2 separate regions of the Homo sapiens genome follow, and region 1 is linked to region 2. The links come from fine-mapping of genetic effects on gene expression. Tissue or cell type: whole blood. Region 2 holds a variant in brackets; the other region holds the start of a gene. All regions are shown on one strand. Distances are between the middles of the regions.

Region 1 (7,560 bases), 250 kb before region 2:
TCGGTAAGACTTATTTTCTATTGTACATATATAGACCAATGAAAAGGGAATTTCATTGGTCTATATATGTACAATAGAAAATAAGCAATGATTATATGATATTTGTACAATGTAAAAGAAAGTATTATCCAGTTATGAATAAGATTGGTGCATATAATAGAAAAAAAGAGAAAAAAAGAAATTTTATTTTATATCTTTATTATAAGCCATAAAATTTTAAAAAAGAAGTGGGCAATGAACCATGGAAGTGCACTAAATTAAGAATTAAGCATGATTTTTTTTAATCCGTATCCATCTTACATGGCTCGTTACAATACTACAGAAAGAGAAAATATTGATTAATTTTAAAATTATTTACAATATAGTTCATACACTACTCTCCATTTTTTCATAAGATGATACCATGCATTTTTTTGAACCATCCATAAACTGAGTTATGAGGAAGAAAAAGAAGGCAAAAAAGAGATGAACTTCCTTTCAGATAAAATTCTAGGGTTAGTGTTTGCTTCCTTTTAAATAGAGACACCCGAGAAGCATATTATTTTCTGTCATTTCAAAACGATTGGAAAGTCTTTTAATTCATTAGAATCACTCAATAAAGATTGAAAATAAAATAATAAAATAATGAGGAGTTGGTTAATTACTGAACAGCTCTGCCTCTGAGGAAAATTAGATGCACTGTTATTTTGCGTGTGAACCAACTGAAGTTCAGGTGTCCAGAGCAGGCAGCCCAGACTGCCTACCCCATGGCTCTGTGGCTGGCTTCTATTGGGCTTGAGTTCTTGGCTTCCAGTCTGGCTCTGCAGCTGAGCCCAAATATAGAATGACTAAATTTGGTCCTATTTAGTTGCTGGATTCTAACGGCAATTTTAATCCAACACTAATTATTTTTGCTTTGTGGAATAATAAATATGAATAAAACATTTCAAGCCATTATATTGTCAGATTTTGTCAGTACTCTGTGAATGGTATACCCTTAAAATGACCTTTCCATAGTGTTGGACTAATTTTCCGAAGTGAAAGCAGGGCTTAAACTTGGCGTCAAGTCCTGCAGCAACGTTAACTTACTGGAGAGGAGGCAAAGGAAAAAAAAACAAAAGTGTGAATGTGTGAGCTTACCACTAATGTGAGCCTCAAAGGTTGCGGTACTACCCTCCAGTACCACAACGCTTTGTAACGGCTGCGTAAACGTCGGTGCTTGAGTTGTCATCTTTCTAGGCACTCTGAAAAAGAAGAGAAAATAAATTAGGGTGTCCCAGCTAAGGGTCACTCTGGAGCTGCTTTGCAGATAGCAGAGACACACGTTTCTCCAAATGGATTGCTCCATAGGTCATCTGTGGGCCTAGAGTGATGGGCAGGTCTTCTCTTTTGTGGCTTGAACAGTTTTGCATAGTTCATCATTGAGTTGACTTAAAGCCTAACCCAAAGTAGCAAGTGTAAGGGGAAATGGAAAAAAGTATTAGCCAAACAGAACAAGGAATGAACCCTAGTGGTCAAAGAGGGAATATACAGTCTTACCAATGGTGGAAAACCAGGTTCAGAGTTGAAGAAGAAAACCACAGCAATGCAGGGTTAGTGAAGTGTAATTAGAGAGACAAGACATGTGATAAATGTAAAATAAACCTCTGGGCCTGGCGTGGTGGCTCATGCTGGTAATCCCAGCACTTTAGGAGGCCGAGGCGGGAGGATTACTTGAGGTCAGGAGTTTGAGACCAGTTTGGCTAACATGGTGAAACCCCTGTCTCTACTACAAATACAAAAATTAGCCAGGCGTGGTGGCCCATGTCTGTAGTCCCAGCTACTTGGGAGGCTGAGGCATGAGAATTGCTTAAACCCAGGAGGTGGAGGTTGCAGTGAGCAAAGATGGTGCCACCACACTCCAGCCTGGGTGACAGAATGAGACTCTGTCTCAAAAAAAAAAAAAAAAAAAAATTAAAATAAATAAACCTCTGCATCAGCTTAGTAAGTGAAAATTATTTTAAAAATTTTCCTTCTCCCCAATATTTTTCGTTCACTCTATATTTATAAAGTTGACATTGATTCAGACATTATCTGATTACTTAAAATAGTTGCCAGAAGTAAAAATCTGAACTTTGTAATCTCTTTCCTGACTGGAGAAGCTTTGGCAAGCCTTATCAAATATGCAAGCTTTTTGTAGACGGCATACGGTGCTTTCTATTTCTTAACATTTCTTCATACTGTAACTGTGCAGTAAATGTTGTTACTGCTGAAGTAAATATTCAGAAAAATTTAAATTTTAGTGAACAGGCCAAAGTTTATTATAGTTCTGAAAGAAAAATGCTGGCTTGAGTTCTTAATATGGAACAATTTGCAAACTTTGAATAATGGAAGGCTGGTGTAAAATGTAGATGAAGTGAAAAGGCCTATGCTTTCATAAAGTAAAATATTCAACATCAAAGAAACGAATATAAAATTTGCAGTTAAGTCATTTTGTTAAGTGCAAGAAAGTACTTTGCCTATCAGTTTCAGAGACATTATGTGAAGAATTTTCTGATGCATAAATACCTAATTATTCAACATGACTATTCTGTTCTGAAATAGAACATTTCTGAATTGTCAATCACTTCATTACTATTTTTCATTAAATTCTTTGTTTACTAAAACTTCATGGAGCAATAATCTTCTTAGTGATAATTCTGTTCCTTACTGTAACCTTCTACTTAGTTAAAAAAATGAAACCAGCATTCTCTGAGACAATAAAATTTATATTTGGAAAAATCAGATAATATCCAAAAGCTTTCATAAATTTTTTTTGTCAGAAACTCCTTTTTGTAGCATATTATCTTTGGGATGAACAACTTTCTGTGTCTAACTTTGTCTGTTTATAAGTTAGTATATCTAAAAATAGCTGTCCTCTTAGACATAGAATACCTAATTATATATCTATGTATTTACAGGCATTGACAATTAGTAATCAAATTCTAGGAAGATGAGAAATCAAAGTGTATTTAGAAGTAAGAAACCTTTCCTTTAAACATTATTTCTTACCCTTCTTAGTGTCAACATTTATCTCAAAATATATAATTGGACTGTGTGCTGAGTTAAAATGCATGAAGAGATTCTGAATATTTTAGAAAACAATTATATCATTTTATTCCAAATCTCCAACTATGTTGCAATTAACCAGCTTAAATTGATCTTACATTCCTATTGTCTAGGTAAATTTTATTGCCTTAGCACTTGCTCTTCACAGGCCTTTGTCTAACTGGGGCTGAAGGTATGCGTCTAAAATGTCATGCTCTTAAAATAAACTCTCCTAAACTCTCCAAGGTTGACTGACAGCAGGCAAGTGTTCTGTCACTGTCCTGCAACTGATACCTCAGCAGTTGATTCCCTTAAAAAGTCATCAGGGTGTAGCTGATACCACATGCATTTTATCAGAGCTATTCTTGGTGTGCTTAACTTTATCATTGAGTAATATAACCTTGAACATTCTCAACAGGCAAAGAGAGTCTAGAAAAGAAGTAAACATTTCTCTCAACATTTCAGACCTCAACTTTTAGAATATTAAGTGAACTTAAACAATTTGAATCATGGAATCATTTAGCTGATATAATAAAGCTTTCAACTTTTTAAGGAAAAATGTTCAGACATTTTAAAATAGAATTTAACAAGCAGATTTAAATAATGGGTCAGCACTGGCAAGAAATAGTCATACAAACACTTGTACATAGGCATTTAGCACACACAAATAATCCAGAGCCAGAGATCAATAAGAAAGTGACTCTACTATTAAAATAAGAAAAGTTGCTGCTCACCTGATTTCTCAAGAGTGCCTAAAAAGGGTGGGACTAAGCCCAAGGTTGCTTCTGAAACGACGTCCTATGGAGAGTTGGTTTTTCTGACCATCTCCGACATGAATCGGTGAGCCTCTAATCCTAAAAACAAAACTACACAGTCAAGACTGTGTAGTTTTGCTTTTCTATGCAATCCCTACACCCGAGGCGAGGCTGGGAATGCACGACTGCTCAAGAGCCAGGGTCTGGCCTGCCCTTATATTCACCAGATCTGCTGACAGCCCCACATCCTTAGGCAGGGCCCTGGGTGATTGGCTGTCTTAGGAAAGCATGATGGGAGAGGACCTATTTGGTAGTGTCACATACCACCTGTTCTTCTGATTGACAGTGCTAAATTTAGTACCTCAAAGGAGACTTCACCAAGGAAATAGAACTGTATTTAAAGAATAACTGTGTTGAGGCTCAGAGAAGAGCATTGGTTGCTGATGTTAAAATCCGAAAATGCAGGTTTAAAGAGGTGTGACAGTAGATAGCACTTGTGGGCAGTCATACAAAAGAGCCCCAAACCTGAGGACTGTGCCCTGAGTCAGGCCCCAGTCCTGTTCCCTTCCCCCATAAAACAAACCAAATGGACCTGTCAATCATGACAGCAGATGAGGAAATTTATCTCAAGCATAAGGCTTCATGTTCTCTGAAGAATCAGTTGCTATAAACCTTAACGTTGAAGAGAGCTCATTTGTACTACCTACATTCTCCAGAATCCACTTGTATTTCGGGGACAGTTACACTGATGTTAATGAGCTTATTGCTTATACAACCCTGCAAGATATAATGTTGAAAGGCAAAATTGGAACTCTGCTTAGGTTAGTCTGTACAGTACAATGATTTCACCTTTGTCAGATTTCATTTTTGTCTGGCATTAATATTTACAAATATGTGTGTACTGCTCCTTAGTAAGTAGCCAGGTCTTATGCTTAAATCATCCATAAGGTTCCTTTTCCAGACACATGAATGCTGTTCTGCTAATCTCTGGAGTTTGCTGTTACTAATGGGAAGTGGATAGGAGGTGATATAGTTGCTATTTTAGGACTGAATTTAATTTCAAGCAAGAGATATTTCAAATAAAAAAGAGCACACCAAAAGATCTTTATAATGACTCAGCTGAGAGATTTGTGAAACTCTACTTAGAGGGAGGAAAATTGTCTTGTTGATAATGGAAAGAGACTTTTATCAATAAAAGAGACTAAAATTTTTAATTTAAGTTAAATTTCTTTATGTCTGTAATAAAAATATTCCCTGTTATGGAAGAATTTGGCCATGCATTAAACTTTTCAATTTCTTGAGTATTTCATATCTTGTATTTATTTATATAGTGATTAATATGTTAATGTTTAACAGTTTAAATTTACTGACAACTAATGTAGTATAGTTATGTTAACAAGATGACGCCATGTACTTATTTAAACATTTTTCTCCTTTACTTAAGTGGTGGTATCTGTATTGGTGGCACCATTTCCACCCCCATAGATGGCATCTGCTATAATTCTATTTGATTGCTTTATTCAGAAACAACTGGTTTCATATTATATACTTTGAAAATTATTCCCACTGAGAGATTTGTGTTACAAAGAATCTGCCAGTCATAAGGCAAAGAAACACTAGAAATGTATGATCTTTCTGTTTTGGAGTGTTCACCAATTGGCTATCTATTTAAGATACGTTTGTGCATATTTGTGTGTGGGTATGTAGTGTGCGTGTGTGTATTTTTAGACTCATTTGACCTAATGTGAAGCACATTAATGTTACGTTATGTTTGTTGGAACTAAAGTCAAATCATTTTAATTCTTACGGGAACTAGAGGGAAGAAGTGACTATAATCTGGAAGCCTGCGTCATCTTGACATGATGCAATTCAGGTAACTCAAGAGCCAAGAAGATGGACCATATGTTATAAACATAAAGTCAAGTGTCTGTCCTCTTAAGCTGATTGTCTAGTCACTGTTCTTAGACTTTTCTAGACCCTGCCTGCCAGCCTACATCTTTCTCCCGAGCTGGATGCTTCCTGCCCTCGAACATCGGACTCCAAGTTCTTCAGTTTTGGGGCTTGGACTGTCTCTCCTTGCTCCTCAGCTTGCAGACAGCATATTGTGGGACCTTGTGATTGTGTGAATTAATACTTAACAAACTTCCCTTTATATAAATATATATATGTATGTATATATTCTTCCCTATATACATATTAGTTCTGTCCCTCTAGAGAACCCTAATACACCTTGCAATATTGTCAAGATCCTTGCCTTTAGGCCTTTATATGTTTATGTGACATTCAGAATTAAGAAAAGAAAAAAATGAATGAACAAAAGAAAAAAGAAGAAAGAAAAGGAAAGAAGGGACCAGTTAGTAAATAACTAATATGCTGCTCTGAAAAAGAGTTCTTATTATTGGAATAGTAATGGACAGTATATGATATCATGGTATGCATTAGTTTTAAAATTAAATATGCCATCGTTAGAATTAGTAAACTAGTCTTGTGGAAACCAAATACTAGGCAGATTTGGGGAGTTTGCTGATGGAGTAAGATCTCAATTTACCACCCTAACAGTGGGGAGGAGCCACACAGATAATCCCAAACAGCTGATAATTCAAATGTAATGCCTACTTAATTTGGAATGCATGGCATGATTCTCTCTTTAAGCACAATATTCAATGAAATTCAATAAATATTTATTAAACATATAGTCAGTGCTGAGCACTGGGATAAATTATTACGATTTTGGATTCTGTCATTATTTATTGATTTGACAAATATCTACTGAGTGGTGACTTTGTGCTGGGCATTGTGCTAGTGATGGCTAGGCAGAGCTGACCAAGAAAAGACAGTTAGAATTATTGTGCTCTTAGAGATCATGGTCTACATCAACTCTTAGTGAATGCTCATTAATCTGTGACTGAGACCAAGTCTAGGATATATGTAAAACTCAGGCAGTAACTCCAACTACATAGTCAGACTTTGTTTACCTTATATAGGACCATTTACAAAGGAAGGACTTACTGGGAGTTATTCGAGAAATGGGTACAGTTTTGAAGGCCAATGCAAGGATACTAGAAGAGAGTAAAACTAATGTATCTTATGACTGATTAAATTTTTTTGTGTGTTCTTTTATTGTATTAAACACAGTTTAGGCACAGAGATCATAGCAATGCACACAACACACAAAAATACCTGCCCTCTAAGAGTTTACATTTTTGTTAACACAGTAATATTAAGTGATATAATATCTGTAATTTCCTTTCCACTCATAAAATATATCAAAGCTGAAATATAGGCTCATCATGGAGCTATTTTTAAACAAGGAAATAGAAAAGCAAATTCAAGAAGTGCACAGGGAAAAGCGTGCTGACAAAAACAATTTATTCTAATGGAAGACAGTCGTGTTCTTTGAGTTATAGAGGCGGAAAAAGCTACACTGGGAATGTGGGAGGCAAGAAATTGTTGCTTACAATTTAAAAGACTTATTGTCCCATTTTTTTCTACATCCAGTTATAATTTCTTTAGAAGCAAGATCAAATTAGGTTTCCACAACTATTTACAAGTGTACGAATAGTCACAGATGCATTTAACACCACATCGAATACAAAAAGATTATTTCAGACACGTAAGATATTTTTACCAAAGTAAGAAAGATAAAAAAATTAAAGTCTTGAATGTCTCAGTAGCACTGCTGTTAGGGGCACTTGGAATTTCTCTCCTATTCTACCTGGGTTTAGGCAACTCACTTGAATCTCTGTCTCAGATTTGTCAG
Region 2 (7,560 bases):
TTATTCCTCATCCTGCTCCAAGAATGTTCATATTTGAGGAAATGGAAAGTTAACTTTTTGAAAAATAGTGAGTTTGCCTCTTTTCCCTCATTGCTGAAATCTGCAGTTAACTCAAAGTATCATTAATCCCGTGCAAATGATCTGTTTGCCCTACTTCTGCATCAGGCTTCTTTTCATCTCCTCTCTGGGACTCTGAAAAGATGGGAGGGTGAGGAAGTCAGCAGAGGCCTGGTTCCTGTGGGAGAGAAGTCTCACAACACCAGAAAATCCACCTCGGCAGGAATACTTTCCATTCTGTCCTTCTATAGTGAACTGTTTTGCTCAGTATCAAGTGCTCTTTTCCTGGTATGAATTTTCACATTACCATAAAATTCACAGCAATTAAGTTAAAGTAAACATGGCTTGCTGTCCATGCTCTAACAAAAGGCCAGAAAAGTCATTCAATTAAACCTGGTGGGGACCTGAAAGTAACTGGTTTGTGACCATCAGCTTGTTTGCCAGCTTTCCCTTCATTAAACACTGAATTATTTAGGTGGAATATCATCTAAAGCCCAAGCCTAGTGCTTGAAAGCTTTTTTTTACAGGGCATTTCCATGGAGAATAAAATCATGGAGTTCTTCTTCAGCCTAAAGATGTGTGGTCATCTTTGCAAATGGGCAAATGGGTTGTCATAAAACATGCAGTAATTGTAAACCCTAAGTGGCTTCTACTTCCTGCTGTTAAGAGCAAATTTGACACAAAGCTTTTGTACCTTTCCTTGCATGGTCTTCGTTACTGGACAAGGATTTAGTAGTTTCTTTACCATGTCAAAACCAGTGTGGCAAAGGGCACATGTCGGAGCCCTTTACTTGGTGTTTTCTGAGTTCCATCGTGCTTAAAGCAGTGCCCTCCCCCTGTCTGTCGGGACCTGCCTCCTCCCACCTCCATCACATCCACTCTCAAAAATCACAAGCATTCCACAGGTCCATTGGACTCTTTAGTCAGGCAATCATGAACTTCCAGTTACCAATGCCTTGCTTTTAAAGACCAAATTGACAGTATATGCTAGAGGTTTTCTTTTCTTTATTTTTCTTTCTTTTCTTTTTTTTTTTTTTTTTAAATCAAGCTGCTATAGATGCTTTCTGGCTGACTGAAAGGAAAGAGAATCTCTGGTAACTGCTGAAACTTGTAGAGGTTTCTCTTAGTAGCCCATTTTAGAAAGCAGTAAGAGTGCTTGCTGCGTTGTCTTCTCTATGCTGTGTCCTGCCGATTGCATGGAATGTTCTTTAGGGTTTTCAACACACAGCTAGAAGCCCACAGCCGCACAGAAAAAAGGAAGTTGTTAGCTTACCTTTATGACAGCTATAACGATTTTGGAGTCCCCAGCCTGCACAGCAACTGAACTGACTGTCGTCGTAGAAAGCGCAACACTAGGACTTCCTTGGCTGGACATGGTACTTTAGAACCAGAGTTTATACTTTGGGCAGCCTCTGGACAGTTGTGTGTCTGCTGGTCATTTCAGAAGGCCAGGGTTACTTGGATTCATTCAGGGAAAGAGCTCAGCTCACACTGATTACTCTGCCAAAAGGAAAGAACAGGAGGTTAAAAATAGACAACCCCATTGAGTTTATCGTGAGAGAGAAAGGAGCGAACGAGAGAGAATTGCCACGCCCCTAGTATGGTGACACTAAGTGCCTGTTATTTTTGCTGTTATCTTAAATGTGGAGGACAGCTTCAAGCTCTTTCCTTATCAGCTGATGTTTGATAACAAATGGAAAAAAAAATTACATCCTGACAACCCAAATTAGTTTTGCCACCGAAACTATGCCATTGTAACCATGGACTTTGAAACAAGTAAGTCTTTGACCTGGTTATCAATCTTTTCAAGATTTTTGAAATCTCTCTGATGCAAAGAGAACTACCAAAGTGTACTTTAAAAAAGTTTTGGTATTTGTCTTGGGGTTAAGTCACAAATTGCTTAAAACACATTTTTAGATTAATCTGCTTTTCTAAAACTTACTGTTCTTTGCTAAATGAAGTTTAGATGGAATAGCCACATTTTCTCAGAGCCTCAGATTTCTTAGGAATTTTTAAAAAATATTTCAACCAGCATTTATAAATAGGTGCCTATCATTTCAGATTTTCTTTGTGACTATTCTGCTCCATTGGACAAGGTTTTCAAGTTCAGTTATTAATACCATGAGAAAGCAAAATACTTTGCTGTTACCTTTTAATTGCAGCAAGAAAATGTTTTCTGTGTGGTTAAAAGTTATTAAGACATATATTTTGCTGCAATTAAAAACAAAAACAAAAAGGAAAGTACTGTGCTTCAGGCTTTTTATTCCCTACCCCCACCTCCTGTTCAGGAAAATTATAGCCAGCTTCAAATCAGTGCCCCACATTGGTAGATTAATCCTATTGCTAGAAACTCAGCCTGTGTCACAAGTTGTCTGTGGTATTAAACAGCAGCTGTTGGATTCCCTGTCAAAGAACAGCTGAAAATAACACTAAAGTTTAGGTCAGAAGTCAGATGCAAACATATCAGAGTTACTAACTCCAAAGCTGCTGGAAGCATTGGAAATCTCTGGGACAAAGCCACAACAGAGAATATAGCAAAAAACAGTTTTAATGAATCCACTTGCTCTGTAAACCTTTTAGCCCAATTTAATAGTAGGTTCAGGTTCAGGGCCAATGTTTAGAAGACTGAGTCAGCTCCATTGCTTTGTTTTGCTAAGGTTCATGATCATATTCTTGATTCAAAGGGGAAAAGTACTTTTACACATACTTCAGTGTTCAATTATTTTTGTTTCCAAGAGCATGTCATGGCTGCTCTGCAGCTGTGTAGCCACCACCCATGTCCTCTGCGCTCAGCATCTGCCTGCTGCCCCAGTGAGATGGAAACCATACCTAGATCCTAGTCCCTATGCAACACGAACTTCACCTGACCCCATGAAGGGAACAATTGGAGCGAGCTCAGGAAAGCAGATGCCGAGCAAGCTATGATGTAGCAACTATTGCAAATGGTTTCATTTTATGGCAGGGCTGGAGAGCTTGCAAAGAGGTAACTGACCTGGAAGGTTGCAGGCAGGCTCCTTCTTTCACTTGCATCTGTGTGAAGAGACCACCAAACAGGCTTTGTGTGAGCAATAAAGCTGTTTATTTCACCTGGGTGCAGGTGGGCTGAGTCTGAGAAGAGAGTCAGCGAAAGGAGATAGGGGTGGGGCCGTTTTATGGGATTTGGGTAAGTAAAGGAAAAAGGGGGGTTGTTCTCTGGCAGGCAGGAGTGGGGGGGTCACAAGGTGCTCAGTAGGGGAGCTTTTGAGCCAGGATGAGCCAGGAGAAGGAATTTCACAAGATAATGCCATCAGTTAAGGCAGGAACAGGCTATTTTCATTTCTTTTGTGGTGGAATGTCATCAGTTAAGGCAGGAACTGGCCATCTGGATGTGTACACAGGTCACAGGGGATATGATGGCTTAGCTTGGGCTCAGAGGCCTGACATTCCTTTCTTATATTAATAAGAAAAATAAAACGAAATAGTGGTAAAGTGTTGGGACGGTGAAAATTTTGGGGGATGGTATGGAGAGATGATGGGGGATGTTTCTCAGGGCTGCTTCGAGCGGGATTAGGGGCGTCATGAGAACTTAGAGTGGGAGGGATTAAGCTGAAGGAAGACTTTGTGGTAAGGGGTGACATTATGGGACTGTTAGAAGAAACATTTGTCATTTAGAATTATTGGTGATGGCCTGGATACAGTTTTATATGAATTGAGAAACTAAATGGAATAAGAGAGGGAGAAAAACAGGTATTAAAGGTCTAAGAATTGGGAGGACCTAGGACATCTGATTAGAGAGTGCCTAAGGAGATTCAGCATAGTCCTGCCGGCAAAGATTATTTATTTACTTCAAGAGTTAAGAGTGGCAGTTTGGGGATAGCACCAGGAGATATCAGCTGTGATGGCTTGGAGAAACAATGTAAACCAGCAGTGTAAACAAGAGCAGAGCATGTATAAGTAGTTGAGAATGGTGAATAGGAGTATGACTAGACAGAAGATAGTAGGGATGACAAGATTTTGGGGGCAAAATCTAAGTTGGTCTGGTGTCTGGAATGAGACTGGGGCTAAATAAAAAGGAGCGTCCACACAGGAGCTCAAATGGGCTGTACCTTGTAGCATTCCGAGGACAGGCCTGAATTCTGAGAAAAGAAAGAGGTAAAAGTATTGTCCAGTCCTTTTTAAGTTGGTGGCTGAGCTTAGTGAAGTGTGTTTTTAAAAGACCATTAGTCCGTTCTACTTTTCCTGAAGACTGAGGACTGTAAGGGATATAAAAGTTTCACTGAATACCAAGAGCCTGAAAAACTGCTTGGCTGATTTGACT[A/G]ATAAAGGCCAGTCTACTATCGGACTGCGTAGAGGTGGGAAGGCCAAACCGAGTAATTGTGTCTGACAGAAGGGAAGAAATGACCGTGGTGGCCTTCTTAGACCCTGTGGGAAAGGTATCTTCCTATCAAGTGAAAGTGTCTACATAGACCAAGAGGTATTTTAGTTTCCTGACTTGGGGCATGTTAAGTAAAGCTAATTTGCTAGTCCTGGGTGGGGGCAAATCTCTGAGCTTGATGTTTAGGGAAGGGAAGGGGCCTGAATAATCCGAGAAGTAGTAGAATAGCAGATGGAACACTGAGATGTTATTTCCTTGAGGATAGATTTCCACGATGGAAAGGAAATGAGAGGTTCTAAGAGGCGGACTAGTGGCTTGTAATATAGGATAGCCTGCCTTTGCTGGTGTGTGGTGATTAGGCCTGGTGGAACTGCCATCAATAAACCAAGTGCGATCAGGGTGAGAAACAGGGAAGAAGGAAATGAGGGGAAATGGGGTGAACATCAGGTGGATCAGAGAGATTCAGTCATGAAGGTCAGGTGTGGTATCAGGAATAATGTGGGAGGCTGGATTGAAGTCCGGGCCATGAACAATGGTAATTGTGGGAGACTCAACAAAGAGTGAGTACAACTGAAGGAGCCGGGGAGCAGAAAGTATATGCATCAGGTGTGAGGAAGAAAATAGATTTTGGAAATTATGAGAGCTGTAGAGAGTGAGTTGAGAATAGTTTGTGATTATAAGGACCTCTAAAAGTATTAGGGTGGCAGCAGCTGCTGCACGGAGACATGATGGCCATCCTAAAACAGTAAGGTCAAGTTGTTTGGACAAAAAGCCTACAGGATGCGATCCCAGTCCTTGTGTAAGAATTCCAACTGCACAGCCCTGCACTTCTGCTGTGTGTAATGAAAAGGGTTGGGATGAGTCAGCAAGAGCTAGGGTGGGGGCAGTCTCTAAAGCTGTCTTCAAGGAATGGAAAGAGGAGTGGAGAAAGGATTTAGGATCTATGGGGTCAGCTAGGTTTCCTTTTGTGAGTTTATATAACGGTTTTGTTAGGATGGCAAAACCAGGTATCCAAAGGTGAAAGTATCCAACTATGCCTAGGAAGGAAAGGAGTTGTTTTGTAGAAGGGATTGGGGTTTGGGAGATTAGCCGGACACTACCAGCAGGGAGAGCACATGTGTTTTTATGAGAATTATGCTGAGATAGGTAACAGATGAGGAAGAAATTTGGGCTTGACTGAAGTAATGGGATCTGTCTGTGCAGCTTTGCGGCAGTACAGCCCAGGTAATTTGCTGAGCTTGATGGGTGTCAGGGTCAGTCCAGGTGAAAGCAAAGAGAGGCTGGGATGAAGGGTGCAAAGGAAGAGTAAAGAAAGCATGTTTGAGATCCAGAACAGAATAATGGATTGTGGAGGGAGCTATTGAGGATAGGAGAGTATATGGGTTTGGCACCGTGGGGTGGATAGGCAAAACAATTTGGTTGATAAGGCATAGATCCCGAACTAACTTGTAAGGATCATCTGGTTTTAGGACAGGTAAAATGGAATTGTAAGGAGAGTTTATAGGTTTTAAAAGGCCATGCTGTAGCAGGCGAGTGATAACAGGCTTTAATCCTTTCAAAGCATGGTGTGGGATGGGATATTGGCATTGAGCGGGTAAGGGTGATTAGGTTTTAATGAGATGGTAAGTGGTGCATGATCGGTCACCAAGGAGGGAGTAAAGGTATCTTATACTTGTGGGTTAAGGTGGGGGGATACAAGAAGAGGACCCAAAGGAGGCTTTGGATTGGGAAGAAGGGTGGCAATGAGATGTAGCTGTAGTCCAGGAATAGTCAGGGAAGCAGATAATTTAGTTAAAGTGTCTCGGCCTAATAAGGGAACTGGGCTGGTGGGGATAACTAAAAAGGAGTGCTTAAAAGAGTATTGTCTAAGTTGGCACCAGAGTTGGGGAGTTTCAAGAGGTTTAGGAAGCCTGGCTGTCAATACCTACCAGTTATGGAGGCAAGGGAAACAGGCCCTTGAAAAGAAGGTAATGTGGAGTGGGTAGCCTCCGTATTAAGAAGGGGATGGACTTACCCTCCACTGTGAGAGTTACATAAAGCCTGGCGTCCGTGATGTTCTACGGGGCTTCCGAGGAGATCGGACAGCATCAGTCTTCAGCCGCTAAGCTGAGAAGATCTGGGAAGGAGTCAGTCAGAGAGCCTTGGGCCAGAGTTCCAGGGGCTCTGGGAGTGACTGCCAGGTGAGTTGAACAGTCCGATTTCCAGTGGGGTCCTTCACAGATGGGACACGGCTTAGGAGGAATCCTGGGCTGCGGGCATTCCTTGGCCTGGTGGCCAGATTTCTGGCACTTGTAGCAAGCTCCTGGGGGAGGCGGTTCTGGAGGAACCCCTGGCCACTGTGGTTTTGATGTTTGGAAGTTCTTGTGTGCTGGAGATGTGGCTGGGGTTTGTCTCGCAGTGGAGACAAGGAATTGCAATTCAGAAATGTTGCTACTTGGCTGCCTCTATTATTGTACACCTTGAAGGCGAGGTTAATTAAGTCCTGTTGTGGGGTTTGAGGGCTGGAATTTAGTTTTTGGAGTTTTATTTAATGTCGGGAGCAGATTGGGTAATAAAATGTATATTGAGAATAAGACGGCCTTTTGACCTTTTAGGGTCTAGGGCTGTAAAGCGTCTCAGGGTTGCTGCCAAACGAGCCATGAACTGGGCTGGATTTTTATATTTGATGAAAAAGAGCCTAAACGCTATCTGATTTGAGATAAAGAGAAAGGAGCATTAACCTTGACTATGCCTTTAGCTCCAGCCACCTTTTTAAGAGTAAATTGCTGGGCAGGTGGGGGAGGGCTAGTCACGGAATGAAACTGTAAGCCGGACCAGGTGTGAGGAGGGGAGATGATAAAAGATTTATAGGGTGGAGGAGCGGAGGCTGAGGAAGAATTAGGACCTAGCTCGGCCTGGCGAGGAGGGGAGAGGTCAGATGGGTCTGTAGAAAAGGAAGATTAGAAAGACTCAGCGACGCTTGGGGTTGGGACTGAGGAGACTGGTGGGAGGGAAAGAAGGAAGATTTGGGGTGAGTTGCATTGGGAACAGAGACTAGGGGGAGGGACCGATGTGTAAAAGAATGCCTGGGCGTTAGGCACCTCAGACCATTTGCCTATTTTACGACAAGAATTATTTAGATCTTGTAGGATGGAAAAATTGAAAGTGCT

What was found. PIP is the estimated chance that this variant, and not a neighbour inherited with it, causes the effect.
Region 1: TTN starts here. The variant in region 2 is fine-mapped to the expression of TTN in whole blood (TOPMed, PIP above 0.99). The same link has a PIP of 0.9 or more in blood mononuclear cells.

The regions. Positions count from the first base shown.
Region 1 is chr2:178,803,433-178,810,992 of GRCh38, forward strand. TTN (titin) reads right to left here and starts at 3,991. Exons shown (of 363, transcript NM_001267550.2): 1 at 3,780-3,991; 2 at 1,120-1,223. The coding sequence starts at 1,210.
Region 2 is chr2:179,048,510-179,056,069 of GRCh38, forward strand. It overlaps CCDC141 (coiled-coil domain containing 141), which reads right to left and starts at 1,628. Exons shown (of 24, transcript NM_173648.4): 1 at 1,331-1,628. The coding sequence starts at 1,432. RefSeq lists enhancers at 1,125-1,174, 1,365-1,614, 1,625-1,704. The variant A/G (reference allele first, on the strand shown) is at 4,355.